6 separate regions of the Homo sapiens genome follow, and regions 2, 3, 4, 5 and 6 are each reported to be linked to region 1. Evidence: microRNA targets listed by miRTarBase, many of them from high-throughput screens and not tested one by one. Region 1 holds a microRNA gene; each other region holds the end of a gene's coding sequence. Distances are from middle to middle.
The links. Region 1 holds the annotated microRNA hsa-miR-6760-5p (CAGGGAGAAGGUGGAAGUGCAGA, at 1,433-1,455, opposite strand). A microRNA usually pairs through its seed, bases 2 to 8, with sites in the 3' UTR of a target mRNA and lowers its output. Matches are read on the target gene's strand: a 7mer-m8 pairs with bases 2 to 8, a 7mer-A1 pairs with bases 2 to 7 and ends in A, and an 8mer does both.

Region 2: the mRNA of GDPD5 is a reported target of hsa-miR-6760-5p. The part of its 3' UTR that is shown has no 7-base or 8-base seed match.
Region 3: miRTarBase lists SLC22A23 as a target of hsa-miR-6760-5p. Seed matches in the 3' UTR shown: 7mer-m8 at 3,203-3,209 and 7mer-m8 at 1,691-1,697.
Region 4: miRTarBase lists ZNF740 as a target of hsa-miR-6760-5p. Seed matches in the 3' UTR shown: 7mer-m8 at 1,705-1,711 and 8mer at 3,994-4,001.
Region 5: the mRNA of SIGLEC10 is a reported target of hsa-miR-6760-5p. Seed matches in the 3' UTR shown: 7mer-m8 at 488-494.
Region 6: miRTarBase lists TSEN54 as a target of hsa-miR-6760-5p. Seed matches in the 3' UTR shown: 7mer-m8 at 3,266-3,272.

What each region holds. Positions count from the first base shown.
Region 1 is chr12:111,301,517-111,305,601 of GRCh38, reverse strand. MIR6760 (microRNA 6760) reads right to left here and starts at 1,460; the gene lies at 1,393-1,460. It overlaps CUX2 (cut like homeobox 2), which reads right to left. Exons shown (of 22, transcript NM_015267.4): 10 at 1,288-1,392. All of the region lies in intron 2 of LOC105369983 (a long non-coding RNA gene), which reads left to right.
Region 2 is chr11:75,432,291-75,436,364 of GRCh38, reverse strand. It overlaps GDPD5 (glycerophosphodiester phosphodiesterase domain containing 5), which reads left to right. Exons shown (of 17, transcript NM_030792.8): 17 at 710-1,725. The coding sequence ends at 858. It overlaps KLHL35 (kelch like family member 35), which reads left to right and starts at 3,162. Exons shown (of 7, transcript NM_001039548.3): 1 at 3,162-3,322. RefSeq lists an enhancer at 3,638-4,074.
Region 3 is chr6:3,269,575-3,273,659 of GRCh38, forward strand. SLC22A23 (solute carrier family 22 member 23) reads right to left here. Exons shown (of 10, transcript NM_015482.2): 10 at 1-3,838. The coding sequence ends at 3,481. Among named protein-coding and RNA genes, the nearest start is that of PSMG4, 13 kb to the left of the region's middle.
Region 4 is chr12:53,186,929-53,191,013 of GRCh38, forward strand. It overlaps ZNF740 (zinc finger protein 740), which reads left to right. Exons shown (of 7, transcript NM_001004304.4): 7 at 573-4,085. The coding sequence ends at 662. Among named protein-coding and RNA genes, the nearest start is that of CSAD, 8.0 kb to the left of the region's middle. RefSeq lists a silencer at 3,157-3,451.
Region 5 is chr19:51,407,414-51,411,498 of GRCh38, reverse strand. SIGLEC10 (sialic acid binding Ig like lectin 10) reads left to right here. Exons shown (of 11, transcript NM_033130.5): 11 at 128-1,479. The coding sequence ends at 400. Among named protein-coding and RNA genes, the nearest start is that of SIGLEC10-AS1, 6.3 kb to the left of the region's middle. RefSeq lists enhancers at 2,049-2,549, 3,567-3,616.
Region 6 is chr17:75,523,766-75,527,850 of GRCh38, reverse strand. TSEN54 (tRNA splicing endonuclease subunit 54) reads right to left here. Exons shown (of 11, transcript NM_207346.3): 10 at 4,072-4,085; 11 at 3,116-3,589. The coding sequence ends at 3,439. LLGL2 (LLGL scribble cell polarity complex component 2) reads right to left here and starts at 2,154. Exons shown (of 26, transcript NM_001031803.2): 1 at 2,026-2,154. RefSeq lists silencers at 2,448-2,632, 1,949-2,668, 2,689-2,788.

The sequences.
Region 1 (4,085 bases):
GCCTCAGCCTCCTAAGAGGCTGGGACTACAGGCATGTGCCACCATGCCTGACTCATGTAATCCTTTTAATAACCCTATAAAGTAGATGTTAATTGTACAGATGAGGAAACTGAGGCACAGTCAGGTTAAGAATACAGTCAGTTGCCCAAAGGTCACAAGTAGAGACACACATACACAGTAACACATTCATAGAGACTCATTCCAATATTCAAACAGAAAGAGAGACATAGACACCTGGGCCTGTATATGTGGGTGTCAGGTGAAGTGAAAATTATGCTCGCAAGTTCAGGTTCATGGGTGGAGAGGGAAGTCACCCTGGAGCAGACCTGTTATTATGTAAGGAATCATGAATCTCACCCCTTGGTATGTAGAGATCTGGAAATAAGGCAGACCAATTCACATAATGAACCCAAGGCTCTCTGGGAGAGCCAGGATGGAGACTGCTAATATAGGACAGAAGGGTAGGTTGGGGTGGCCTTGATGAAAGTCTCTTGTCAAGAAATGACACTAGGACCCCAAAGAGGCACAAACCAGGAGGAAAGAGAAAGATGAATTGATTAATCAGGCCTAACACAAGAACCTCAGGGTTGATCACCGAAGACTGGCTCTTCATAGCATGTGGCTGGGGTGGGAAATCCCCCTAGAATCACCTGGCATGCTTTGGAAACCAATGGCTGAGTATGAATGTTAAATTTTATCTTGGTATGTGGCCCCACTGCAGTCCTGGTGATGACTGCCTGTTGATATGTTGGCTGGCTCACACTCCTAAAAGTACCCAGTTTTGGGACTGAAAACCAGCAGGGGCATCACCATCCCAAGCATGCACAAAGCTGCTATGACCGGTGTTCAACAGCGACACCTGGTGGCAGCCACCAAAACTGCATGCTGCTGTATTGCCTCAAACTCCCTCTCCCCCATGTCTTTGCTGGTGCATCTGGAAATCAGAATGATCTTTGGTCTGAGGAAGTTCCTGGCATTCTTGGATAATTGGGGATAAGGGAGGCCTCCAAAGGAAGATACTGGAACTCCTGGTAATAAAGGGTATATGGAAACGTGGGCTTGAAAAGTAAAGAACTGTAGCTGTATTTTTATCCTCAGCTGGTGTAGCAGGTCATAGTGATTATGCTCACCGTATGCACAGAGACCCACACACATTCACACTCCCAGTTTCAAATGGATGCACACAATCAACCACAAAGTGTCACCCACATGCTGAAACCTGCAAACTCAGCCATTCCCGATCTTTCCCTCTGCCCTCCCTGCTCACTTCCCCAACCCCATCCTTACCCCACTGGGCCCCTGGGGAGAGCAGCAAGCCAGGCGGATGGAGCTGTTGACAGAGGCCAGCTGTTCCCGGAGACTTTCCACCTCCCGCTGGGCAGCCTCAGCTCGCTGGGGAGAAGGGGACAGTGTGGGCGAGAGGTGAGCCCACTCTGCACTTCCACCTTCTCCCTGCACTGTTTCAGGCAGGGGTTGGGGAGGCAGACCTCCGAGGGCCTCAGGTCCTGCCTTCCTAGTCCCGGACCCTGTCCTGGAGCTATGAAGACCAGTCACAGAGCCCTGTCTGGGCTGGGGACAAGAAATAGCAGCCTCTGGGGTTACTCCTGAGCTGAGAGGACAGGAAGAAATGCCCCTCTGAGGAGGTTCTGGGTTCTCGTGGGGTGCCTGGGACCCCCAGAGGAGTCAGAACATTCCTGCTCTATGAAGGCAGGATGAGAGAGGCTCTCTGGGTGGGACTGGCAGGTTTTCACACATTTCTAGATACTTCTGTCTGCCACATTAACTTCAGGCCTGGCTAGTCTGAAGGCAAGAGCTGTTCCAACTCTCATGCCACCTGGTATGGAATGAGTCCCAGACACGGCATCTGCAAAGGTGCTTTCCCAGGCCACAGGTTATTGCAGCCCCTGGGCAAGTCACTTCCTCTCCCTGGGTCTCAGTTTCTTTTCTTTTCTTTTTTTTTTTTTTGAGATGGAGTCTCACTCTTGTCACCCAGGCTGGAGTGCAGTGGCACAATCGTGGCTCACTGCAAGCTGCCCCTCCTGGGTTCACGAGATTTTCCTGCCTCAGCCTCCCAAGTAGCTGGGATTACAAGTGCACACCACCACACCCAGCTATTTTTTGTATTTTTAGTAGAGGTGGGGTTTCACCATGTTGGCCAGGCTGGTCTTGAACTCCTGACCTCAGGTGATCCACCCGCTTCAGCCTCCCAAAGTGCTGGGATTACAGGAGTGAGCCATCGTGCCCAGCTCAGTTTCTCTTTTTGAAATGGGGAGCAATGAAAACATCTAACACAAAGAGGTTTTGAGTGGTTAAAATCAGAATGCAGCAGTTCACTAAACTGGGTCTATGGTCGATTTTTTTTTTTTTTTTTTTTTTTTTTCGAGACAGGGTCTCGCTCTGTCACCCAGGCTGGAGTGCAGTGGTGCAATCAGGGCTCACAGCAACCTCCAACTCCCGGGATCAATTGATCCTCCCATCTCAGCCTCCTGAGTAACTGGGATTACAGGTGTGCACTACCATGACGGGTTAATTTTTGTAGTTTTAATAGAGACGGGTTTTGCCATGTTGGCTAGGCTGGTCTTGAACTCCTGGGTTCAAGTAACCCACTTGCCTTGGCTTCCCAAAGTGCTGGGATTACAGGCATGAGCTACTGTGCCCAGCTGGTAGATTTCTTTTTCTTTTCTTTTTTTTTTTTTTTTTTTAAGACAGAGTCTTGCTTTGTTGCCCAGGCTGGAGTGCAGTGGCACAATCTTGGCTCACTGCAACCTCCACCTCCTGGGTTCAAGCAATTCTCCTGCCTCAGCCTCCTGAGTAGCTGGGATTACAGGTGTGTGATGCCAGGTCTGTCTACTTTTTGTATCTTTAGTAGAGACGGGGTTTTTCCATGTTGGCCAGGCTGGTCTCTAACTCCTGGGCTTAAGCAATCCACCCACCTCAGCCTCCCAAAAGTGCTGGGATTACAGGCATGAGCCACCACACCCAGCTGGTAGATCTTAATTCTTAAAAAATTTCTACCTGGAAGGAAGCATTCAAATGTTAATACATTTAATCTTGTGGCTTTGGAGAGAAATCTGGGCTCACATTCTGACTTTGCAACTTTCCGGTTATGCGATCTTAGGCAAGAGGCTTCATCTCCCCAGCCTCGGTTTCCCTATTAATAAAATGGGGATTATAAAGGCAACTATCTCATAGGGTTGTTCTGCAAATGAAGTGGTTTGGCCAAATGCAATTTGGTAGATATCTTTGCTTGGTGCCTGGCACATATAAATGCATCAATAATTGGTTAACTTTGTTAACATCATGAGGGTATATTACTTGAGCCATTACTTAGAGAATTAAAAGAGCTGTGGCTGTATTTTTGCCTTTGGCTGGTAATGCAGGTCATAGTGATTATGTTTAACTACATAATGACCTGGACAATCAGGATGCTATGCCCAATGTATGCATATTGAGACCCATACACATTCATGTTCACATTTGAATTTATTATTTATTTATACGTATCTTGCCTTGTTCCAGAAATGGTTCAAGTCAATTTTGTTTTGGGAAGAGTTTCCTGGTATGTGGGACTGTAAAGGAAATATTTTTATGTTTCTGTACAGTTAGGGAACCCTGAGCATATCTGATTGAAAGCTGAGATCTGGACTAAAGGACAAGCCTTGAAAATTCAACTCATGGCTGATTAGCTACTGAGAACCCCAGAGGTTTCCTTCCCTGGAGGTTTATGTGTTTAGACATCAAGGGTGGGTGAGACCCACATCATGGAGACAGCCCCTGAACAGTAAAGCTGGGTTTTAAAGCAATTAGCTGGGGCTGGGCATGGTGGCTCATGCCTATAATTCCAGGACTGTGAGAGGATTGCTTGAGACCACGAGTTTGAGACCAGCTTGGGCAACATAGCAAGATACCATCTTGACAACAGCAAGAAAAAATTACGGCTGTGGTGGTGTGAGCCTGTAGTCCTTGCTACTTGGGAGGATCCCTTGAGCCCAGGAGTTTGAGGCTGCAGTAAGCTAGGATCTTGCCACAGCACTCCAGTCTGGGTGACAGAGCTGGACCCTGTCTCTTGGAAAAGAAAAAAAAAA
Region 2 (4,074 bases), not on the chromosome of region 1:
GGGCCGAGTGAGCTGAGGGAAGGAAGGGCATTCCAGGTGGGCACGGCATGTGTGCAGAGGTGGCAAGGGAGCACCGCTTGCCTGGGCACCAAGAATGAAGTGTCCCTCTATATGGCCGAACTCCACTCAGCAGAGCTTTCTTGAGCCTCTGCTCTGTGTCCAGCACTCTACCAGGCCCTGGGGACATAGATGCCCAGAACCCACCCTGGTCCTTGAGGTATTTTGGGGGCCCAGGCAGCAACCATACAGAATATGGCCAGGGCAGAAGGAAGCAGGGTCTGGAGTTGCCATGAGGAGGCCCTAACTCGGCCCAGGGCTCCGATGAGGTTCCCAGGAGGCTGAGTGACAGATGAGAAGACTTGAGCCAGACTGTAGGAAAAGGAGGTGTTGTTGGGGCAGTCACTCCTAAGAGAGGGGCTGACACATGCAAAGGCCCTGAGGAGAGTGGACACATGGGTGCCAAGCTCAGGGGCACAGGTGGTTTTCTGTGGCTGCAGAGTCCCAGGGGACAGCAGATGAAGGCGAAGCTAGAGTGCTCAGCAGACACCAAAGGGGCCTTGAGTGCCAGGCTCAATGTCGACCTGAGCCCAGTGGTTTCATCAGCCTCCAAGTGCCCCGCTGGGTGGTGCAGCCTTCCTGCCCCATCTGTCACCCATCCTCACGACTGCCTCCTCCCCGACTCACATTCTGTCTCCCTCTGGCCCAGCAGAGATCAGCGATGGTGTAGAGGTCTCCGATGTGCTCTCCGTATGTTCAGACAACAGTTATGACACATATGCCAACAGCACCGCCACCCCTGTGGGCCCCCGAGGGGGTGGCAGCCACACCAAGACCCTCATAGAGCGGAGTGGGCGTTAGCTGAAGACATGTCTGTCCCACCTGTACCTGACACAGAAGCTGGGGAGCCTAGGAGAGCTGGTGGAAGTGTGTCTGAACTCGGAGTGCTCTGGGAGCGGGCTCCACAGCCTCCTTGTGGGCTCCAGCCCCTTGTCAGCCGCAGCCTCTCTTGAGGGGGACTCCCTGTCTCCTGAGGCCCAGCTGGGCCAGGACTCCATCCTTTCAGATGCCCCTGCAGGCCTGGGGCTCCTTCTGGGAAGTATGGGGCCTAGGGCTTGGTCCCCCTCTTCTGAGGCCCTCTCCTGTATCCCGACCTGGAAGCTTTGATGGGTCATGGGCCATGCCATACCCCCTGTGGCAATGGAGTGTGTGGATGCTCACCTGTGCCATCTGTCCTCCTGTCTGTGCCAGGAGGCACCTGAGTTCTCTGCTGTTATCCTGCCCCAAGGGCCTGGGCCGAGCCTCTACCTGAAGCAACTCTGCTCTTCCTGTCAGTCTCAAAGCACAAGGAGGTTCAGCCCAGGAGGAAGCCAGCTGCAATGTGGAGACACGTCCTCCTCCCCAACCCACCTCATGCCACCGCCAACCCCCTGCCCCAGGAGCGGGCCTGAGCCACGTCCTCTAGGAGCAGCTGGAGATGGCCAAAAGAGTGAGCTCAGGACTACTGGATCCCATGCCCAGGTGTCCAGCAGACCTCAAGGCAGAAGGGTCACCTAACCCAGGAGTCCACAGACTGATGTGACCTCAGGTTCCCACATCAGTGGCCACAGGGCAGGGCCCACCTGGTAGAAGTGTTCTGGATATGGCCAGGGTGGGTGTGTGGCTAAGTGGGCCTGAACAGAGGGAACCTAGGGCCCTTGGCCAATGTGATTAAAGCTGCCATCTTGATGTGTGTTGTCTCTGAATTGCCAGCAGGAGGGTGGGGACAAGTGCGCTGGGTCTAGGTTTCAGTTCTGACCCTATAATCTGAGGAGGAACCATTCTCAGGAATGAATGGGAAAGTGGCAGAATGGTGCCTCCCCTTCCCTGGGTCCGCCATGGTGCCAGTGGCTGGGAGCCGGTATCCTCATATGGTGGATGGGGAGACAGTCTTGGAGAGGTAAAGTGACCTCCAAAAGCCACACAGCTTAGAACAGGCCAAGCCAGAATCCCATCCAGACTCTGGCCCCAGCGCATATGTGTGCCTCCCATAAGCTAGGAATGACACGCAGAGGGGGAGGGCTCCTGGGTCCAATGTAGGGCTGGGAGTGGGACTGGCAGGTGCCCTCACAGCCACATGAAGGCATTCTGAACCTCCCGGCTATGTTGGGACAAGCCCTCAGCACAGGGAGGCCTCTTCCCCATGCCAGGAGTTTGGCTTTGACTTCTCCGAGCTTTGGACCTGCCTGAGGAGGGCCCATGCCCATGCCCAGGACTGGGGGCACCTGAGCTGAAAGCCAAAGTACAGCCCTGGGACCACAGGTGTCCTTTCCTTCCAGTCCTTGGGACCTCTGCTGTCTGTGGGCAGGAGTCAGTGGTGGTGTCAGAGCAGGCCTGTAACTCCCCTCTTTGTCCTGAGAGTCTGCCTGGTCATGGGTGTGACCTGAGGGAAAAGGGGGAAGCTGAGCCCCAGCTCCAGCCTGCATCAAATTAACTCCATGCTTCCTGGGAGCCAAGGGACGTGTCTCTTCCAAACAGGGATCTTCTGGATAGAATTCTTGGGGTCTAGGAGATTCTGGCACCTTATAGGTAAAAAAGAAAAGAGCCCTCTGCAAATGTTGGAAGCTCCACTGGGCCCCCACAGTAACCTCGAGGACCGGCCCTCCTGCCCCTGCTACTGAATGTCTGGCAAGTGCTCTGCTTCCTGGGGCAGAGGTCAGCTCCCGCCTCTCCCTGAGCTCAAGGGAATGAGACTCAGAGCCACTGTGCCCCCCGCCCCACATGCTTAGTCACATTGGCATCTACATGGTCACACAGCCACATGTCCACACGCAGCCCAATGCTACACAGTCACTTCATTCCATGTACTTCCACAATCACGCATAGTCACCCTGAAACCTACATGCCTACAACTGCATGATGACACCCCTCCCACACCCCAACTCCAGCACCACACACCTTCGAACCCATCGTCATTCCGGGACAAGGCCAGCACCAGGTCACCCCCAAACCCAGGCATACCAAATCCTGGAGTTCCACACACAGTCAATCCCACTCTTATGCCCCCCCTTTCTTTCCCTCCCTCCCAGGGCTAGTCCAAGAGTGGAACAAAAGCCCAGCATCCCCCTCCCTGCTCGCTTCTCCCTTCCCCTCCCTTCCCCTCCCTCCTGGCGTCCAGCCCCTTTGTCCTCCCGCAGCTGAGCCCGAGCGAACAGCAAACGGGAGTCTGGGCAGAGCAGCATGAACACTGGAGCTTGGGCTGCCAGGGGTGCGGGCGGCAGGCACAAACGGGAGTGATACCTGTGAGAGCAGCAGCTGCGGAGCACTTGGGAGAGGGTATGGCCAGGTAAGTGCCAGGTGCATGGGGCAAGGCTTAGGCTGCAGGGCTGACCCGGCTGCGTGGTGTCCGCAAGTCTGAGATGGGGAGGATGCGGAGGAGGTGCTTGGGTAATGGCTTCAAGTGGATGTGGGTGTGTAAAAGAGTGATGGTGGCATGTTCGAGTCAGCTTCTATAGGCTGGGCCCTTCAATCTGCATCATGACCCCTGGCTTGAAGTGCCTAGACTCAGCCGAGAAGGGAGGATACCCATTGAGCCCTACCTGGGAATTTTTACCTTCTGTGTTCCAACTGGGTGTCGTTTGACCCCCAGACTGGGGATCCCCAGAGTGAATGCTGGATCTGATGTCACTGTGTGTCCAGAGTGCCCAGCGCAGTAGACAGTAAAATGAAAAAGTACTGACACACTTCCTAGGAGGGGACTCTTTCTCCCCCAGGGAGCTGCTTGTGCTGTGGGGCACCTTTGCAAGAAGTCCATCCTTATGCTGATGAGACCTGCCCTCTTGAGTCTCAACTCAGAGCATGGTTGTGCTTTCTGAGCCAGTGGAGGACAGACTGGTTGCAGCGTGCTGTGATGACCGGTCTCACTTCCTTCCACCGGTCCTGGCTGCTCCTTGGGACACACCCCCACCCTGGCAAGTGTGGCATGCAAACCCTGGAGCCAGGTGGATTCAGGATCCAGTCGCTCTACTTGGGCAAAAGTAGTTAACTTTCTTGCCCACCAGGGAGCTCATCTCTCATGATGCTGACCAGGGGATCCGC
Region 3 (4,085 bases), not on the chromosome of region 1:
GTAAGCTTGTGCTATGAACGAGCACCGTCAGAGAATTCCCACCCACACGTACAGAAACACAGTTTTTATATTACAACCTCAAGGACAGGGAGGGAAGTGTTCGCCGCTAGACATGACACACCATACTGCTTTTCCAAAACACACGGGACATGAAAGCGAGGTGGTGCCTTCTAGACGAGAGGACAGCTGTAGTGTGGACCTCCCCCGCACATGCGATACCTCGGGCCGGGCGGTGTGACCTCACAGGCCCACTTATGGCACTTGCAGTTTGGGATTGCTCATTTGGCTCTAGGAAGCGGTGGTGTCTGAGTGTGATACTTCCCTTACGAGGTTTGTTTTTGTTTTCTTTCTGTTCTGTAGCCAAACCAATTTACCAGCCCGTCTTCCAGATGCAGGTGATCTTACTCTCAGTAAACAAAAACATGTAACCTTTTTCCTGTTTCTCTTGGGTGGTAATAATTTTAGGGCATTTGATAAGAGTTTGACTTCAGAAAAAGAACAAAGTGAAGAAATGTTCAGCTCCATCTCAGGTGTTCACATTTGTGCATAACTTTTATTGAAAGGCTGACAGGGTAGGCTAGCGGAACGGAGGGGTGTGTGGAGGAGAGTAGCAGGGGGTGGGAGGGTCAAGTTGAAACAGTGGGTGCCTGCGAAGGGTCTCCCTATTAGCCAGGAAGGGAACAGCACAGAGGGGTTCAAGCGTGACAGACGGTGCTGGGAAGTGGGCAGCCGTAGCAGCCTCCCCTGCTGAGCCCGGCGGGCCCAGATGCGTATCAGGCTTGGGTGGGTCCTGCCACCTTGCTCACTTGGTACCGGATTTCCCGGGGCTGTGCCCACAGGGAAGTGTTGCTGCTCTGGCAACATTTCATAAAGGTGTTGCTCAACAGCTTCAGGTATCCCTAGGCTGAAGCTGCCACCAAACAGGCACCCGGCCTCCTCCTCCTCAGGCTGCCCTGGGAGGAGAGCTGTGGGACCGCCTCGCCGGCTGAGAGCCATTACCTGCCGACCGTCGGCAAGTCAGCCTCACACCCACTGGACTCTGCTCCCAAGAGCCCAGGCTGTTTTCCTCAAAGCTAGCCTCTTTTCCAGTCATCGATGGATTAGTCCTGATGGCTGAAGTGCTGAGCAGTGTCTTCGTTGGACCAGTTTTTTATTGTCATTTGAGGTGGAGATCAGAGATCATGACCAGAAGAGTGTGAGTGCTGTCCCTTGCCACCAACTTCCTAGAGATTTCGGGCAGCACTCTACAGCTTCAATTTCCAAAAAAAAAAAAAAGTTTACACGACCAGTGAGACTGCTCGCAACTTTCATCACTTAGCATATCCTTCCACAACACAGTACAGTAAGTGGACTGCAGGGTGGCCTGGTGCTGAGGGTGATGGGTGCAGACGTACACCTGTCCAGGTGCAGGCTCAGGGGCCTCGCTGGATCCTTCCCACCTTCCCCAACTGCCTACTGGCCTGGCTACTGGATAGGTCCTATTCTGTACATAATGGGGGTTTGTTGACAGGTGGCTTTATAGCAAGTACTCCAAAAAAGGTAAAAGGAATTTCACAAGTTTGGCACGCAAAGGCTGCACAGATCTAAAGAAAGGCCTTTGTAAAGGTGAATGCAAACTAATGTTGAAACATGGAAATGTGACTTTAAAAAAGAGGGAAGGTGAGGAGCTGGACGTGGAGCAAGTGGAGGCAGGGAGAGGCTGGCCAGACAGCCTCCCTTCCTGGGTATCTCAAGATCCCAGGTGTCGGCGTGGTCCAGCCACTGGAAACACGTGGCCAAGAGTCTGCTTGCCCCTTGCTGTGTCTTTACACATCTCCAGGCCCTTACTGATGTGTGGACCGCATGTGGAGGAGACATGAGTGGCGACAGCAAGCAGCAGGCCGGGTGGAAAGCCAGAAGGGGAGAAGGTCAACCCCTTTTCTGCCCTGTGAATTCTAGCAACTGTCGGTTGGAAGTCACTTCATTGTCTCACCCAGGCCCGAGACCACAATTTCCCTGGAAGGACACAGCCCATGGCAAAGACATGCTTCGAGAAGGGATGAGTTGGACAATGCCAGTAAGAAGCCAGGCTGTCCAGAAAAGCTGGTGCCCAAGTTGCTACAAAGTGGTGCCTGCCCTTGCCAAGGAGGCTGTCTCTTAGTCGCCTTGGGTGTCCTACAAGTTTCCTCCGAAAATGCCAAGAGGAAACCTCCACTTTCTGGGGTGAAACGAGGAACACGAAGAGACCCATGGAGGTCGAGGCAGGGGCAGCGTTGAGCTTTGGTGAGTTATTGCTTTCTTTCAATTTGTCTTGATGCCTTCGAGAGGCTGGAGGTCATTTGGACTCACCTATGAGGAATCTCCGCTCCCTGCCCGAAGCCCCACCTCTGTGCTATGCGAGTGACTGCAAGCAGGAAGCTGGCCCAGGAAGGCAGGCGTGAGGGGGCCCAGCTCCTGCGGGTGCTCCCTGGAGTGATGTCTGAGGTGACGGCCATCCAAGCTGGTGATCTTCATGGTGTGTGCTCAAGGTGTGGGTGACGGGCGTGTGTGTGTGGAGGGCAGCCCCCCTTCTGTGGATTTGCCTCTGCCATCTTTTTGAGTTATTTTCTAATGGTTTGTAGCTTAGAAAGTAGCCATGTTTTCAAGTAGTGCCGGCACAAGAGCTGCCTGTGCACGAGGGACTTTTCTGCTGGAGCCAATCTGGGAGAGGAGGAATAAAAACGAGCACATCTCAGGTCTCGACGCATCTGTTAGCTGTGTACTCACAAAGCTGTGGCGATATGACTGCTGCTCAATTAAGATTTCTGGTGAAATGTTTAAGCTTTTTCTCCAAGAGCTTCCAGCATCAAGTACAAAAGGATGATCCTGAAGGAAAGATGAAGCTGGTTTTAACGGCGTCTGTGAGCTGCTTTCCCTGCACACGAACAGAAGCTCTTACCTTACAAACAGAAAGGGAAAAAGGACCTTAAAAAACCATACACAGACTCTAGCAAAAGCCAAATTCATGTACATTTCACTCCGTCTAAAATGCAGTCCCGGAAACGCTCCACGGTCCTCTCCTGCCTCTGCACGCAGGCAGGCAGCCTGGGGGGCTCCTGGGTGCTGCCAGGAGCCGTGTCCCATCTCCCCAGAGGGACCGGCCATGGCCCTGGTCACTGTGGCATCTTCCCAGAGCAACTGCGTCTCGCTGCCCAGGGAGGTGATTCCATTTGTGATCAGTGAGAGGGAGAGGGAATAAAGTGCTTCTCGTAAAAATGACCAAAATAAATACACACATTTAACGGCAGAAAAGAAAGTCTTGAAAGGGTTATTTCCAAAGAGTTTGTCTCCTCCGACCCGCGCTCCTTGGACTTTTGGAAAGACAGGATTTCCCCACACCAGTTGAGAGGCTCAGCTTGGCTGAGGCAGCTTTCCCACCCCTGGCTGCGTGTTCGGTCCCTGGTCTGTAAACCTGTGCCCAAGCTGCCCCAGACCCTGGAGCCCCGGGTTCCGCAGGCCGGGCTACATGGCCTTCATGCCGTTGGCCGTGGCACCCTCGGGCAGTGTGTCACCCGCGGCTGCGGCATCGTGGAGGCCCGAGTAGTCCTTGAGCTCGGCGTTGGTGAGCAGCAGTGGCTGCTCCCCCTTCTTGTGCGGCAGCAGCGGCTGGCGCGTGTAGTGCTCCCCGTTAGAAATGTTCTCAGGCAGGTTCTGGTCCCTGCTCTCGGGCAGCAGGAGGATGCAGATGATGCAGATGAGCGTGCAGCAGGCAAAGATGATGTGGTGCAGGAAGTAGCCTTTCTGGTTGTGCAGCTCGATGATGGGTGCCGTCAGCATGCCGAAGCCCGCGCTGGCCAGCACCAGCCCCAGCCCGCCACACCTGCAGGGGGAGGGAAGCACAGGGATTGCTGCTGTGGGCTAGCGGGCTGGATCCCGGGAAAGCTCGGGGTGGACCAGGAAGCCACCTCTGCAGGGGCCCTGCTGCCCTGGGCACTGCCCAGTATACCCCGACCTCACACGTCCCATGTCACCAGCACCCTGGCTGTGTCTGTACAAGGCCACTCTACGGCAGTGACTGTTTTTCCTCATCAAATCAAAAGCTTTTACTTAATTTATCTTTTTCTTTA
Region 4 (4,085 bases), 58 Mb from region 1:
GGAAGAGATACAATCTTTGCCCTGGGGGTCAGTATCTGATCTGATGAGAATGTAAGAGCTGGGGCCAAAACAAGACAAGAACAAGAGATGAGAAATGATAATAGCTAACACTTCCTGGATGCATTGCTAGGTCCCAAGCTTTGCTCTGCACTCTTACACTGAATCTTCAGACGCTAGAATAAAAGCTCCATGAGGGCAGAGACTTTGTTCCTCTGGTTCTCTACTCTGTATCTGCCTTGAGATAGATACTCAATAAATCTTTGATGAATAAAGCAGCTGTGCTGTGAGTAGGTACTTTTAGCCTCGCTTTGCAGTTTTGCAGATGAGTATGCAGATTCTGGGCTGTTAGGTAACTTGCCCAAGGTCACACAGCTGCTGAGTGATAGAGCCAAGATTCAGCCCCAGGCGGTCTGGCCTGAGAGCTTGGATTCTCCACCACCGTGTGCTCCTGCTGTCTGTGCACGTGCTGAGGGGATGGAGAATGTGGTATCTGCCTCCTGTGAGAGGAATGAGTTAGCCAACAGGTAGCTGCGTTTGTCTGCTCAGGCACTTAACCCTCCCTTTCTTCTCAGTGTTTTTCTCGGACAGATCGATTACTCAGACACAAACGGATGTGCCAAGGGTGCCAGTCCAAGACTTCCGACGGGCAGTTTTCTCTATAGGCGCAAGGGGCCCCGGGTGGTGGGAGTGATCAGAAGAACCTGCCGAAGAGCACACCCCCTCTGGTCTGATGGTCCCACCACCGCCCCATGTGAACCTGTCCCACTCCTGGAGGAGTGGACCCAGGAGACCAGAAGAGTGCATCAGGGGACAGTGGCCCCAGAACCTCAGCTCTGTAAATAATCTGAGACTATGAGTATCTCGGGGAAGTTCTTACAGCATTCCTGGGTAGGGGAGCTAGTCCCTGGACCCTTGGCTGAGGTCATAGGTGGGGACTCAAGGTACAGGACCAAGACTGAAGTGTGGCTCCCACAACCTTGGACTCCAGCTGGCAGCTGAAATGGAAAAGATTGGGGAAGGGGATTTGTTTGTTCTGTTCTTGTTTTTGTTTATCCAAAAGCAACTTCAGCGGGTAAACTGTGGATACAGGTAATCCAGAGGCATAAGAGTCCTGGTCCAAAGTAGGGACTATAGCTGGTCCAGCTCTCCCCAAAAATTGGGTTTTTAGTTGCAGTAGCTCCTCAGTGTTTCACAATCCTGCACTTCGCCTCCTTTTTGAGGAAGAATAAGGTCAGGAATGGCAGCTGAGCTTACTTTGGCTTCCTTATACACTGTAGGGACAAAAGGAAAAACGGGGTGGAGCAGACAAGGGCTGGATCCAAAAAGTGGATGGCACCTCTTCCTTCCTCAAGGGAAAAGGAAGAGTTGTGCCAGTGGGTGTTGTCATGGCCCATGTCACATTGGCACCTGATGGCATCAGCTCAAATGCCTTTAGGAGGAAACTTGGGTGAGAGTGGCCCATGAAGCCCTTTTCTTCTTTTTTTGGGGAGTCGGTCTTGGAGATGGTATGTGGCTACCTCGCTGCCATTGACTCCTAAAGTGAGACAGATGTGTTGAGCAAGGAGTCATGGAAGTCAAAGTGGGTTCTCTCTCCTTGTGCCCTCTTAGGAACAACCCAAGACTGGTCCCAAGTTGGCTAACAGCTGCTCAAGAAACAAAGGAATCTGGGGTCTTCTGACATGCCTGTTGAGCAGTAGGAGCTGTTCTCCCTCCCCAAGTCCTATCACTGTATTCAGGTAGAGGAGGTAGGGAGGGGTCTGTCCTTTGGTCCCAAAAAACAAGATCTCGGCTTGCTTCCTGATGGCCATCCCTACCCAACAGAGTGTGGGGGATGGGGGTGGGGGTGCTGCAGAGAAAAGACTAAAGAAGAAACCTAATGTAGGTTCCATTCTTAACCATATTCTTTGCTCCTCTCTGCTCCAATACCACCACCTTGTCCACTCCCAAAAAAGTAATCGGGTGTGTGTGTGTGTGTGAGAGAGAGTGTGTGTGAGATATGAATGCATGTATTTGTATGCTTGCAGGAGATGGCATATTATTGAGCCAAACCCTTCTCTGGCCCTCACCTTCAGGGAGGATGAGTGGAAAATAGCCTCCTCTTGCCCAAACATGAAGGGTGCTTGAGGTCTCAGCAGGAGCTGAAGAACACAATTTGGGGAACAGAAGGGCTTTTGTTTTGGAGGGTTTTTTTTTTTAAGATGAATTCAACAGCCTGGTGGTTAGGATGTTTCTAACCCAAGCCAGGGCTTGTGAACATGAATTTTCTAAGGTGAAATAAACCTTTTCTTTCTGCTAAAGAAAGAATCCTTATGGGAAGTTTTGGGGTTTGGTTGACCCCCACTGTAACCTGACCTGACCTGTGGCGGGTACGGGAACTGTCTTAGTAATCATGGAGACTGGCTGAACCTGAGTGCCAAGCTGTCAGTAGGGTCTGAGATGGGAAACTCCTGAAAGTATGATTTCATTTCCCAGAAAATGTAAAGAATGGATACCAGCAATGATTCCTGGCTGTTACCTATTCTGGAGGGGTGGGGTTGGGGAGGGGGTTGTCCATACCTCTGTGGTATGAGTATTTCAGGGAAAAAGAAAGCAGGCATGGCACCCATTCGATTTTCCCTGACAGCATCTGAGATCCTTTTGGGGAGACGCTGAGGAGTGTTTGCTGCCATGTACTCTTACAGCTCTATGCTGACACTCCCATTTGATGTGGTCCAGAACTTAGACCTCAGTCCTTGGATCAGCCCTGTGGTCCCTGCAAGCAGGGGCATCTTTCTGCATGTGAGCCAGCCCCCTTCCTGTTCAAGGGTTCTGCTGGATCTGGGCTTTTCCTGTCCTTCACTTCTGGGATGATTCACCCCACATCTTCCAGTACCCTGTAAACCATTTTAAAATATTTAGAAAACTATCCTCCCAAAAATGCTTTTGAAAATGAGAGCCCTCTGTCCCTGCCACTTACAGCTAGTCTCTTTGGGATAGGGGTGTATGTGGAGAGATTCATGTAAGTCTCACATGAGTGACCTGTGCCCCTATGTGTACTAATGTGTGTACTGGGTCAGAAGGTGCCCTGGGTTCCCACAGACCTTGGTTTCCTGCCTGGGTGGGTGGGAGGGAGGGAACTTCAGAGAGTATGTGCGAACAGCCATAGCAGAGCCACCCCTGCCAAGGACCCAGTGAGGGAAACTCAGGAGCAGGTGGTTGGTTCAGTTCCCGCGCTGATGTCTGGGGCAGTGCATGTGTGAGAAGAGAGGCGCAAAGCAGTGAAAGGAGTGATTTGGCATCCAGAGGGCCCGGGAGCCCCACGGATACCCCAGGGAAGCCACTGACTCACACCGCTGCAGAGGCTCCTGGGCCCAATGCCCGACCCCTGCTGGCCAGCATGGGGCCTAGCACTGGAAGATGCCTCAGGTGTGTTTGGAGTGGGGGAAACGGAAGTAGGGCACGCTCTCAGAGACCAGGATAGAGAGTCAGGGAACCTGGGAAAGAGTAGTGCCAGTTCCGGGTAGGCTGCTGCACCAGGCCCTACCAGCTCAGGCTATAAACAGTCTGCTTTGCCCCAAGTCTTTTCCGTCCACCCCCAACAGCCTTGTCATCACTTAGCTACTGATCACGCCCATGGCTTGACATTGGAGGGTTACATTAGTGGAGTCCGCCACAGCTTCGAACCCTCTCCCCAGATGCCCTTTGCCTCTGCTGTGGCCCTGGGGTTTTATCAACTGTCCCCTTCCTATCCTCCTCTCCACCCTGTTTTTTGTTTTTTTTTTTTTTAAATAATATTTTGCTATGGGGGAGGGGAATATCAAATGGACAAGATCACTTTTAAATGGTAGTTTTTATAAGATGTTATAAACTTGTATCTTTTTACCATTAAAGTGCAGTGTATGTTCCTTCGTGATATATTTAGGATATTTAAATAAAAGGAAAATGGGGCTTTTCTACATACTATCTCCTCTTTGGGGAAGCTTTTTCATACTGGTTTTAGTTGTTTTCCTTTTTTCTCCCTACATAATCACCCCACAACTTCCAGCACCCTATAAGCCATTTTAAAACCCCTTCTCCACAGAGGAACAAGCAAGTAGGAGCAAAAA
Region 5 (4,085 bases), not on the chromosome of region 1:
ATGCAAGCTCAGCAAGGCAAGGGCAGGGACTTAGTTTCACTCTGTGCTGTAAATCAGTGCCCGACGCGTGGTAAGTGCTCAAATATTTGCTGAATGAATGAATGAAGGATGGTGGTTCTTCCCTCAGGCTCAGAAGCGGAATCAGAAAGCCACACCAAACAGTCCTCGGACCCCTCTTCCACCAGGTGCTCCCTCCCCAGAATCAAAGAAGAACCAGAAAAAGCAGTATCAGTTGCCCAGTTTCCCAGAACCCAAATCATCCACTCAAGCCCCAGAATCCCAGGAGAGCCAAGAGGAGCTCCATTATGCCACGCTCAACTTCCCAGGCGTCAGACCCAGGCCTGAGGCCCGGATGCCCAAGGGCACCCAGGCGGATTATGCAGAAGTCAAGTTCCAATGAGGGTCTCTTAGGCTTTAGGACTGGGACTTCGGCTAGGGAGGAAGGTAGAGTAAGAGGTTGAAGATAACAGAGTGCAAAGTTTCCTTCTCTCCCTCTCTCTCTCTCTTTCTCTCTCTCTCTCTCTTTCTCTCTCTTTTAAAAAAACATCTGGCCAGGGCACAGTGGCTCACGCCTGTAATCCCAGCACTTTGGGAGGTTGAGGTGGGCAGATCGCCTGAGGTCGGGAGTTCGAGACCAGCCTGGCCAACTTGGTGAAACCCCGTCTCTACTAAAAATACAAAAATTAGCTGGGCATGGTGGCAGGCGCCTGTAATCCTACCTACTTGGGAAGCTGAGGCAGGAGAATCACTTGAACCTGGGAGACGGAGGTTGCAGTGAGCCAAGATCACACCATTGCACGCCAGCCTGGGCAACAAAGCGAGACTCCATCTCAAAAAAAAAATCCTCCAAATGGGTTGGGTGTCTGTAATCCCAGCACTTTGGGAGGCTAAGGTGGGTGGATTGCTTGAGCCCAGGAGTTCGAGACCAGCCTGGGCAACATGGTGAAACCCCATCTCTACAAAAAATACAAAACATAGCTGGGCTTGGTGGTGTGTGCCTGTAGTCCCAGCTGTCAGACATTTAAACCAGAGCAACTCCATCTGGAATAGGAGCTGAATAAAATGAGGCTGAGACCTACTGGGCTGCATTCTCAGACAGTGGAGGCATTCTAAGTCACAGGATGAGACAGGAGGTCCGTACAAGATACAGGTCATAAAGACTTTGCTGATAAAACAGATTGCAGTAAAGAAGCCAACCAAATCCCACCAAAACCAAGTTGGCCACGAGAGTGACCTCTGGTCGTCCTCACTGCTACACTCCTGACAGCACCATGACAGTTTACAAATGCCATGGCAACATCAGGAAGTTACCCGATATGTCCCAAAAGGGGGAGGAATGAATAATCCACCCCTTGTTTAGCAAATAAGCAAGAAATAACCATAAAAGTGGGCAACCAGCAGCTCTAGGCGCTGCTCTTGTCTATGGAGTAGCCATTCTTTTGTTCCTTTACTTTCTTAATAAACTTGCTTTCACCTTACCGCCTCGTCTTGAATTATTTCTTGTGTGAGATCCAAGAACCCTCTCTTGGGGGGTCTAGATCAGGACCCCTTTCTTGTAACACAGCTACTTGGGAGGCAGACGCAGGAGGATCACTTGAACCCAGGAAGCAGAGGCTGTGGTGAGCCAAGATCACACCACTGCACTCCAGCCTGAGCAACAGAGTGAGACCCTGTCTCGAAAAAATAAAAATCCTCCATGGATAGGCCATCTCATCCCAGACCTGGGCATTCGGAACAGCCTGACAAATCTGTCCTGAATGGCCTTCTCTGAATATGGTGTTCTGAGAAGGCAGGCAAAGATTTGCCTTTGACACACCCCAGCTCCAGTCCAGAGGACTGCGCAGTTTCATGGGTTCTCAGAGATGGGAGGGTCTTTAAAGATGACTAGATACAGCCAGGCGCAGTGGCTCACGCCTGTAATCCCAGCACTTTGGGAGGCTGAGGCTGATGGATCGCTTGAGGCCAGGAGTTTGAGACCAGCCTGGCCAACATGGTAAAACCCCGTCTCTACTAAAAATACAAAAATTAGCTGGGCGTGGTGGTGCGCAACTGTAGTCCCAGCTACTCGGGAGGCTGAGGCAGATTTGCTTGAACCCAGGAGGCCGAGGTTGCAGTGAGCTGAGATGGCGCCACTGCACTCCAGCCTGTGCAACAGAGCGAGACTCTGTTTAAAAAAAAAAAAAAGACTAGATAGGCTCCTCAGTCACCTCCAGCCTGCTGCCTATTTTCATACCACCTGCAAGCTAGAAATGTTTTTACATTTAAATGCTTGGGGAAAAAGTCCGAAGAAGAAGACTCTTCTGGGGCCCCTGGGAAGGAGATGAAATTCAAATTTCAGTGTGGTGCCCAACCATGCTCATTCCTTTACACATTGCAGTTATTTTCATGCAGAGTTGAGTCACTAGCCTGCAAAGCCTAAAATATTTACCATCTGATCCTTTACAGAAGTTGGCTAGATCTTAATCTACATAAACTCATTTGTTTTCACAGAAGAGGAAGCGAGCGCAGAGGTCCATAAAGAGTTCAAGAGTAGCCGTGGGAAAAATGACTAGGTCTGTGACTACAGGAAGGTTTTCAGGGTGAGGATTGGAAGGGCAGGAGACTGCATGTGGATGGGGTGCTAATGCGCTCTCAGACCCACAAATCTAAAGAAGTGCAAACGCATGCGGGGATGGAGGTTGGAATGCTTTGGAAATGGAACAATGACAAACTTACAACATGCTAAGAATCACACAGTGGCTCACGCCTGTAATCCCAACACTTTGGGAGGCTGAGGTGGGCGGATCACCTGATGTCAGGAGTTCAAGACCAGCCTGGCCAACATGGTGAAACCCCGTCTCACCTAAAAAAATACAAAAATTAGCCAGGTGTGGTGGCGGGCACCTGTAATCCCAGCTCCTCGGGAGGCTGAGGCAGGAGAATTGCTTGAACCTGGGAGATGGAGGTTGCAGAAGCCGAGATCATGCCACTGCATTCCAGCCTGGGCAATAGAGTGGGACTCCGTCTCAAAAGAAAAGAAATAGAGCAAAGGAGAGCACTTTGCTGGCCATCTCCTCTGCTGACCTCTGCTCCTCCATAGCCACCCAAGGGGCCTTTCTTCGGTAGTTATTGCATCGTTGGTGACATGGCAAGGTGGCCCTCTCTGGTGTGTTTTGTTTCCTGGCTGTGCTAAACACTCCAGATACTGAAAAATAAAAAATTAAAAACTGAGCTGGACACGGTGGCTCACGCCTGTAATCCAGCACTTTGTGAGGCCGAGGCAGGCGGATCACTTGAGCTCAGGAGTTCGAGACCAGTCTGAGCAACAGAGCGAGAGCCTGTCTCTACTAAAAATACAAAAATTAGCCAGGTGTGGTGGCAGGTGCCTGTATTCCTCAGCTATTCAGGATCCTGAGGCATGAGAATCGCTTGAACCTGGGAGGCAGAGGCTGCAGTGAGCTGAGATCGCGTCACTGCACTCTAGCCTGGGTGACACAGCGAGACTATGTCTCAAAAACAAAGAAAAAACCTGAATTAGCTGCAAGGACCAAAGTTGGCCACCAGACGTCGGTATACCCAGGATGATAGGACTATAGACTCATGGTGTGGAATGGGATCACCCAATGCAGCCACCTCATTTTACAGAAGGACTTCAGAGAGGGACAAGGTCTTGCATGTCACACAGCTGAACTCCAGAGCTGGGATTCAAACTCAGGCCCAGGATGGGTGAGCACTGCTGGTTACACAGTCTCCTTTAAGCTTAGAGTGGGAAGGATGCTGCAAGGGCTTGAGAAAAAGGGAACTCCCTACAAGCTGCACAAAGACTGAGACTCTGCTTCCTTCCTTCTACCACCAAATTCTGCCATGAGAGCAACCCTTGAAGATCTGTTTGACCTGGGAAATTACAAGATTGCATTGCTAAGGCACCAGGTTTGACTAGGTGTCAGTAACTTTGAAATGTGTGTGTTAAGGTCCTGACTTCTGCAATAGTGACTTGGGACTTGGAGGGAGGGCATTGTTATCCAGTACTCTTGGGGAAAGGCAATGTTGTGCAAATGAAAACAAACAAACAAACAAACAAAAACACCAGGCTTGGAGTCAGAAAA
Region 6 (4,085 bases), not on the chromosome of region 1:
TCCCAGTGATTGCACCACTGCACTCCAGCCTGGGTGACAGAGCAAGACTCTGCCTCAAAAAAAGAAAAAAAAAAAGTTACTAACAGCTGGGCACAGTGGCTTACACCTGTAATCCCAACGCTTTGGGAGGCTGAAGTGTGAGGGTCACTTGAGTCCAGGAGTTTGAGACCAGCCTGGGCAACATATGGTGAGATCCCATCTCTACAAATTAAAAAACATATTATTAAAGAAAAAAAGAATTTGGTCAACTTAGTTTAAAAAAAAGAAAAAAAAAGAGAAAAAAGTTACTTTTTTCTATTTTATTTCTTATTTATGAATGTAGTGTCATTTTAATATAATTAAAAGCATATTAATCTGACACCAAAGGGGAAACTCCCTTGCCTCAAGGAAGAATGGGGATGCCAAATGACCCTGGACCCCGGAAACCCTGTCCAGGAGCCCCCACAAAGATGGGCCCAGTCTAACTTCAGAGGAAAGGAGTGAACTCTGATTAGAAGCTTAAGAGCTGAGTTTGAGTTCTGTCTGCCACAGCTAGCACTGTGGGAAGATCGCCTAAGAAAACTAAACCCCAAATCCCAGTTCATAAAATAAAGCTGAGACATCTCTCGCACAGTTCTCCTTGTGCCTCTGCTCACACAGACCCAGACAGTTTTCCTCAAATGCCACTTTTTTTTTTTTTTTTTGAGACAGGGTCTCACTCTGTCCCCAGGCTGGAGTGTGGTGGCGCCATCATGACTCACTGCAACCTCCACCTCCTGGGCTCAGGCAATCCTCCCACCTCAGGCTCCTGAGTAGCTGGGACTACAGGTGCACGCCACCATGCCTGGCTAACTTTTTTTATTATTTGCAGAGACGAGGTCTCACTATGTTGCCCAGGCTGGTCTCAAACTCCTGGGCTCAGGCGATCCTCCTGCCTTGGCTTCCCAAAGTGCTGGGATTACAGCTGTGAGCCAATGCACCCAGCCTCAACTGCCACTTCTGACCTTGGCTTCCCCCGGGCTGGGCCACAGCTCTTCTGTGGCAGCTCTGCTCTTCCTACCAGCGTTTCCTTGTCACCTTGACACACCCATTCCCTCCCTGCCCGCTCCCTGCTCAGAATCCTCTCTGTAGCCCCTTCAAGAGAACTCAAGGTTCTCTTGAACTACAAACTCCAGCAGGGGGTCCCTGGAGCCCAGGTTAAGGCTGCCGGCAGTCGCATACGGATCCCCAGGGGAAGGGGCGCCCTCCTCACTCAAAGCTCACCTGTTCAGGTGAGAGCCTCAAAGCGCCACTCTACAGCTCCCCTGGTTAGGTCAGTTCTCCCCACAGCCAAGGCCCAGCGTGTCCACCAATCGTCCAGCCGGAACAAACTAAGACACACTTTCTTTGGCAAGATAGAATTTTCCACTTCTCGCCAAATCCCACAGCGCAAACCCCGCCCGTCAGCATGGAGGGCAGACTGGGTCTCCGCACTGTCATGTGAAGGTGTCCAAAGCCGCCCCAGCTGGAGAAAGGCCGGAGACCGAAGTCCCTCCCGCGGGCTTCCTGCGTCCGGGGATTAGGAGGCACAAAGGGCCGGCAGGGACACAGCCCAGATGGCAGGGGCAGGGGCTAAGCCGCCGGGGCACCGCGCTCCGGCCGCCGCCCGTGGGGAGGGGGTCACCGCAGACGCGCGTCGCCAACCCCGCTGGCCTGGCGCCTGCACGTGGGCCCGGGGACTCCGTCTCTGCCCGCGGTGCCCCCCGCACCCAGCCGGCCGGGGCACCTGTTCTCCTGCTCTCCTAAGCCAACATTATTGTGCAAACCCAAGCCCAAGTTTCAGTCATCGCGCAGATCAGGCAGAGAAGTTTCCCGCAGAACTTTCTACAGGTGTCTCTCTTCCAGGCCAGCACAGCGACGCGGACAGGGGCGAGGCGCGCGGACCTGGGCGCAGCCCTCCCGCCCTGGCCCGACAGCCCAGGGGTCCTGGGCCTCCCTGGCCTCCCCGCCCCAGGTGGAAGCCCCGAGGGGGCGGGCCCGGCTGGGCGAGTCCGGCACGCATCTCACCTGGAACCCCGGGCCAGCCCCCGCCCGAGGCCTCGGCGTCCCTCGGCGCCCGCCGCCGGCCCCGCTCGCTCCGCCGCGCCTGCCCACGGGCTGCTGGGCGGCCGTCTCCTTCCTGCTCACCTCCGGCGCGGCGAGCCTGGGGCGGAGCCGCGCTATTTACATAAAGGGCGAGCCTGCCGGGGCCCAGCGCCCCGCCCCCGGCCCGCCCCCCAGCTCGGCGCCGCAGGGGCGGGGGCACCCTCGGGGGTGGGGGCTGCGCTCCTGCCAATCCGCGGCCCCGGGAAGCGCGGGGCGGGGCCTCGCGAACGGCCTCGGGGTTCCGCAGGCCCGCCCCGGCCTCACCTGCGCGCACCTGGACGCAGAACGGCGCGCCGCGCCCAGTGTCCCGCCGCCTCCCGCAAGCGGAAATAGTTCCCGGAACGCCTGCGGTCCCGGGCCGCCTCCCAGACTCCAGGGGAGCCGTCCCTCCAACTCCCGGGAGCTGCCGAGGGAGGGGCGGATCCGGGCCAGCTCCTCTGCCAGAGCCCAGCCCAGAGAGGGTGACCGGGGGACGCAGGGCCGGGTTTCCAGCCCCACGAGAGGGATGGTGTAGGGACCGGGGCGTCGCGGCGAGACGCCTTTCCTCGGGGGGGGGTGCGGGGGGGCGCCCACCTCCTCCGTGTCGGCCGGAGGGTCTGCAACAGCGGGTGGAATTTTTAGCACAAGCGAGGGAGGAGGTTGGAGCGACGAGAGGCGGGAGCGGAAAGGGCGCGGAGGCCGGGGCTGCAGCGCGCTCCACCGCCCAGCTGCAGGTGGCGCCTCTCGCCACCCGCACCCCGCTGCGCCCAGGGAAGGGCCGATGGCGCGCCGTCCTCCCTCCTCCCTTCGGGAAGCCTGCGACGTCCCATCCCCTCCGACGCAGGCCCGGGAAAGGCTCAAAAGGTTCGAGGTCGCGTTCCTGCTATCCCGCGGGCTTCTCTCACTCTTAGATCCCGCACCAGAGGAAGCGGATCTCCTTGAGTGGGCAAAGCAGGGGTGAGGGGCTGGGGGCAGTTCCACTGACAACGGGACGGGGGCGAGAGGGGTTTACCCAGTACATACAGAAACAGCAGAAAAGAAATCTATTTTTAATGGCTTTGGCTTTATAGCACGAAGCAGGCACCCTCTCGTTAAAGGCACACAGTCCTCTCTTCTGCCCCACCTCCTGGGTCCTTAAAATCGAGTCCTGAGTTCCAGAGGGGTCACTGCAAGGCAGCAGGGAAGGGAGAGGGTCACAGTTTCACTCTGTGAGTATCAGACACCCAGGGCCAAGGCCCAGACTGGCCTCTGAAGCTACAGGTTAGAGTCTGGGTACAGGAGGCAGCCGAGATGGTCCCTGAGAACAGACAGTCCCGGTCCCCCGGAGCAAGCTCCATCCTCTGCAGAGCTGTGAGGTCAGTGCCCCACATCCTGGGGCAACGTGAAGTCCCTGAAGCTGTAGAAGGAGATGTCACCATGATCCACCAGGGCAAAGATCAGAGGGACATCCCCACTCTGGTAAGACAACCGCTTGAGGCTGCAGAGGTCTGGGACAGGCTCATCAAATCTGCAGGGACAAAGGGTTAGAGTGAGACCCAGCCATAGCCCACTCCTAAGCTCTAGGGCTCCCAGAGAAGAGATTCTACGGAAGGAGTTGGGGTGCAAGAATTCTGACCCATGAGTTCTGTCTCCAAAACACAGGGCTCTGATGAAGAGCGCCCCAGAGCACTGGTTGGGGAGGTGCTAGGAAGAGCAAGGTGCTCACCACTCTTAGCCTGTAAATCCCCACAATCCACATCCCTTCTGCTGGGTGAGTCCTAGACTAAAATGGCATTGGAGAAAGACTACCCTAAAATGCCAGCAACGAGGAGCTCAGAGTAGGGCAGCACAAACTGGCTGTGTGGCCTTGTGTAGGTCACTTAGCCTCTCTGGACCTCCTGTTCCTCTCAGAGATTGGCACGCTGGCCAGGGGAGTACAGAGGAGTCCCACTTGGTTCACAGGAGAACTGGCAGCAGCTGGGGGAGGGGCAGTGCTGGCTCACTGCGTACCCACTAATGCACAT